2 separate regions of the Homo sapiens genome follow, and region 2 is linked to region 1. A link means that fine-mapping ties the variant in region 1 to the expression of a gene that starts in the linked region. Tissue or cell type: nucleus accumbens. Region 1 holds a variant in brackets; the other region holds the start of a gene. All regions are shown on one strand. Distances are between the middles of the regions.

Region 1 (2,753 bases):
GATGGTCTGGATCTCCCGACCTTGTGATCCGCCTGCCTCGGCCTCCCATGGTGCTGGGATTACAGGCTTCAGCCACCGCGCCCGCCCTATTACTATTATTATTATAATTATATGACCAAACTGTCACAGTACTCTGGGGAGAGAGAAACCTTCATTTTTTACTGTATATGCTTCTGTATGGTTTGAATATTTTGCAAGAAGCATGTAATATTTTTACAATAAAAGACTAAAATGCATTGTAGTAAGACTCTCAGAGTGTCTGGGAGCACAGAATTAGAGTCAAGCTGATCCTCTGCCAGTGCTTTTAGTCCACTGAGAATCGACCTGTGGCGGGTCATCCCAGCTTCAACCAGTGAGATGCGTTTATGCTGATACTTCTGATACTCTGGGTCCCTCATATGAGGGGGTCCTTGGTTTGACTAAGCAAAGACAGGTTTTGCTGCCTGACTTAACAAAGTGCTTATCTCATCCCGATAAAATTGTATCATCTTTTAAAATTAGTCCTCCTCTACATTGAATGTTTATGGGCCTCTTGTGACAGAACTGGTTGTGTCCCTTGTCAGTCCTGTGCTGCAAGAGCAAATGACCTTATTAAACGTCTACTTTTTGGAGAAGCAGAACAGGTTGCTTTTTATTAACTGCTGTGGTGCCGCTCCTCCCTCTTCATCTCAGTCCCCTAATCCTTCTCCCTTTGAGCAGGGCTTCTGGGATCAAGAGTGCAGATGATGGCCTATTTATGTGTTGTTTTTGTCTTCCCAGCATCCAGGCACTCTACTTGGGCATTAGCATCCTGATTTTCCTTGGGCAACAGATTCCGCCCTCTCCATCCATCTCCGAGGTTTGGAGGATTGGGGATTTGGTTCCACCCCTTGCCTCTAAAAATAGGCATGTGACCAGGTCTGGCCAATCAGATCATTCCATCCCTGTGGCCACTGTGACTGGCCCAGGGATGAGCACATGACTCAAAATGCTAATGAGACATTCACCTGAGTTGTTCCCTGGAACTGTTGGAAAAGATAAATATCTCTTTCTTCTGGGATGGTTAAACTAATAGAAAATAACGTAAGTAAGCAGTAGGAAGAAAACATAGGGATAGAGCCAACAGATGAAAAGAGATAGCAACCTTAAAAAAAAAAAACTTGTAAGCCGGGCGCGGTGGCTCACAACTGTAATCCCAGCACTTTGGGAGGCCAAGGCGGCCGGATCACGAGGTCAGGAGATCGAGACCATCCTGGCTAACACGGTGAAACCCCGTCTCTAATAAAAATACAAAAAATTAGCCCGGCGTGGTGGCAGGCGCCTGTAGTCCCAGCTACTCGGGAGGCTGAGGCAGGAGAATGGCGTGAACCCGGGAGGCGGAGCTTGCAGTGAGCCGAGATCGTGCCACTGCACTCCAGCCTGGGCAACAGAGCGAGACTCTGTCTCAAAAAAAAAAAAAAAAAAAAAAAAAAACTTGTAAATTTGACATAATTTCAAATGTACAGAAAATC[T/C]ACAAGAATAGTATGAAGAAACTCCCATGTGTTTACCCAAAATCACCAAACATACACACTTCTCACATTTGTTTTAGAATTCTCTGAGAGCAAGAGTGAGAGAAAGGTTCTAGAATACGTTGTTTTATCTGCAGGATCCAACTATTCTTGAAACCAAGATCTATTCCTGAAGGGGTGGGTTGCCCCTCCACGCCTGTGGGCATTTCTCGTCAGGTGGAACGAGAGGCTTGGAAAAGAAAGAGACACAGAGACAAATTGTAGAGAAAGAAAAATGGGCCCAGGGGACCGGCGTTCAGCATACGGAGGACCCGTGCCCGCACCGGCCTCTAAGTTCCCTTAGTATTTATTGATCATTAGCAGGCATTTCCCGGACAGGGGGATGTGCCAGGATAATAGGGTATAATAGTAGAGAGAAGGTCAGCAGGAAAACATGTGAACAAATGTCTCTGCATCATAAACATGGTAAAGAAAAAAGTGCTGTGCTTTTGATGTGCATATACATAAACATCTCAATGCCTTAAAGAGCAGTATTGCTGCCAGTATGTCCCACCTCCAGCCCTAAGGCGGTTTTCCCCTATCTCAGTAGATGGAATATACAATCGGGCTTTACACCGAGACATTCCATTGCCCAGGGACGAGCAGGAGACAGATGCCTTCCTCTTATCTCAACTGCACAGAGGTGTTCCTTCCTCTTTTACTAATCCTCCTGAGCACAGACCCTTTACAGGTGTCGGGCTGTGGAATGGTCAGGTCTTTCCCTTCCCACGAGGCCATATTTCAGACTATCACATGAGGAGAAACCTTGGACAATACCTGGCTTTCCTAGGAAGAGGTCCCTGCGGCCTTCTGCAGTGTATTGTGTCTCTGGGTACTTGAGATTAGGGAGTGGTGATGATTCTTAAGGCGCATGCTGCCTTCAAGCATTTGTTTAACAAAGCACATCCTGCACAGCCCTTAATCCATTTAACCCTCAGTTGACACAGCACAGGTCTCAGGAAGCACAGGGTTGGTGGTAGGGTTACAGATTAACAGCATCTCAAGGCAGAAGAATTTTTCTTAGCACAGAACAAAATGGAGTCTCTTATGTCTACTTCTTTCTACACAGACACAGTAACAATCTGATCTTTCTTTTCCCCATATATTCCCATACTCTTACATTTTTCTTTTTTTCATTAAAAAAAATTGTAGGCCGGGCGCGGTGGCTCACGCCTGTAATCCCAGCACTTTGGGAGGCGGAGGCGGGAGGATCCCTTGAGTCCGGGA
Region 2 (2,500 bases), 150 kb after region 1:
CAAATCTGCAAGGATGAAGTCAGTTACCCGAGAGCAAACCACACCTCAAGGTGTGAAGGAAGATAACCAGAAACAGGAGCTGGCACATGCCTTCCAGGGGCTGGGCAAGGCTTGACTCTCAGAGGTGAGGGTTGGCAGCCAGCCCCAAACCCCCATTTTAACTTCTTCCTGAAACTGCTCCAGGAACCTTCCTTAGTCCCAGACACGTGGGACGCAGTGGTACAAAGCCAGCCACACTAAATTTCCCACCTTCCCTTCCTCGGTGGAGGGGGCAACCCTTACAGAAAAACGTATCCTGTCGCCACCCTTAGGCCCATCCACGAACTCCCGTAACTCTGCTGGGGCCACTTCAAAAGAAGTCAGACTCCAGGGGCATTATTGGGACCCCTTAGATACATGGAACCTTCAAACCTTACCCTGGCTATGGTATGACCATGGACTCCTGCCTCCAAACCCTGGGCTGGGGACCCTCGCCCAACCCTTAAAGAGCCTCAGAACCACCTCATAGACTCAGCTACAGACCCTCAGCCTCCCGAACCCATCTTGGAACCCTCAATCCTCTCCTAAGAGTCCTATTTGGATAGTCCACTCAGTCCCCCAAAACCTACTCTGATCCCCTATAGCTGCCTCAGTCCCCCTGGTTGTCCCCAACCTTTCCTCTCAAAGGAAACCCCCCAACCTCTACCAGATCTAGCTCTTGGTCCCCCTCAGTCACCCCTAATCCTCGCCTCCGACTCAGCCCTTATTACTCTCCCCGCTCCTCCGACCAAACCAATCTCAGATCCCCCCAGTTCCGTCCTCTTCCGCCTAGACCCAACGATAGCACTCTAATCCCCAAATTCCCATTCCAGGCTCCCTAATCTCCACTTCAGACCCAGCCTTAAGTCTTCAGACCCAGCCTTAAGTCCTCAGCCCCACAAAACCTTGTCTCAGGACCCCCAATCGGCTCCCCAAGCCCCGTCTCAGGACCCTTTTTCCCGCCTCCGCCCTAGTCTCGGTCCCCTCAGTGCCTCAAACCCCCTCTCAGGCCCCCTATTCCTGCCTAAGCACCAGTCGCGGTTCCCTGGCTCCCGCACCCCGCCCCAAGCGCCCCCATTTCTAGCCCAGTCCCCTCAACACGACCGGAGGCGCCGCGGTCGCCTCCGCCTCCGGCCACCGTTCGAGGAGCGAACCCCGCTCGAGGCCTCACAGCCGCCGCCTTAAGCCCAGCTCGGCTCACCTCCTCCATCTTCTGCACCATCTCCGTCAGCTGGCCCTCGTCCTCCAGCAGCTCGTTGAGCTGCACCAGCGACAGCCCGGCGAACCGGGCTTCGCTCCCGGCGCCCGCCATCCCCACGTCTCGGCCGTCGTCGCCACCGCCGCTGCGGCCACCAGGCTCCGCCGACCGGAAGCGCCGCCCTCAAGGGCCGCCCCCCGCGGGGGGGACACGTGACGCCAGCCCTGGGTCGTGACGTCATCACCGCGCGGGCGGGCGGACGTGACGTAAGTGTCGCGGCTCGCTTGGAGTGGAATGTGTCAGGGACAGTCGGGACTTCTAAAGGGAGGGGAAGGGCCCTATGATTGGGCTGTGACGCGTGAGCGCATTAATGACGTCACTGCGGCTCGGGAGAGCGCGCCATGAGGTCATAAGAGCCTTTTTCCTCCAGGAAGAGAGATACCGCGATCCAAGGAAAACAGGCAGTGGGAAGGAAGTTCCCGCAGCCTGTGAGCCCAGCCCGATGCACGGAACCCAAAAGACAGAGACTTCATGGGGAAACAACTTTAGGTGTCATTGGTTACTTGGAATTGTGGAGCTGCCACGTCATTCATTTAACAAATATGTTTTGAGACCTACTCTGTACTGGGCATTGAGTATACAGTTCTGAATAAAGCAAAACGGACCCCTGCTTACATGGAGCTAACAGAATGAAAGAGGACGCAAACAAAACAAGAAATAAGTAAAATAATTAGGCGATCACAAATAAGGGAATGGACACTGAAATAAGAAAATAAAAAGACCTTTAGGGTAGTAAGAGATGGCACTTTCGGAGAAGGTGGCGTCTAAGGAAATGTGAAGGATGAGAAGGGAGGAACCAGCCACCATTCCTGTAGGAAGCTCAAGGCAGCAAAACCAGCACGTGCAAAGGCCCTGGGACAGGACTAACTTGGTGCATTCAGGAATGGGAAGAAGGCCAGTAAGGCTGGAGCATTTTGAGCAAGGACCCATTGAGTGGCCCCTTTGCATCACCTCAGAGGAAGGTGCCCAGACATCCAGGTGGGCCAACCTGTGCTCTTTCAGAAACAACACGATTTAGGGTGCAGTCGCTCTCAGTCTCTCAGCTACCGGGAAGCCTCTTAAGATCCAGGAGCCTGGGAACTCATTATCCTACTTTGGAATCTGTCACAGTTCTAGTTAGAAGAAACCTAAGGCTGAGGTTAACCATGACAGCCCCCTAATTTTACACATAAGGGAACTGAAGCCCTGAGAAGGGGAAATTTTTTGGGCTTTTGCTTTGTTTCT

The links. PIP is the estimated chance that this variant, and not a neighbour inherited with it, causes the effect.
Region 2: VPS37B starts here. The variant in region 1 is fine-mapped to the expression of VPS37B in nucleus accumbens (GTEx, PIP 0.94).

Annotation. Positions count from the first base shown.
Region 1 is chr12:122,749,203-122,751,955 of GRCh38, forward strand. No RefSeq gene overlaps it. Among named protein-coding and RNA genes, the nearest start is that of DENR, 2.2 kb to the right of the region's middle. RefSeq lists enhancers at 720-1,014, 2,118-2,753. The variant T/C (reference allele first, on the strand shown) is at 1,491.
Region 2 is chr12:122,894,733-122,897,232 of GRCh38, forward strand. VPS37B (VPS37B subunit of ESCRT-I) reads right to left here and starts at 1,392. Exons shown (of 4, transcript NM_024667.3): 1 at 1,220-1,392. The coding sequence starts at 1,330. RefSeq lists an enhancer at 1,056-1,205 and a silencer at 1,386-1,535.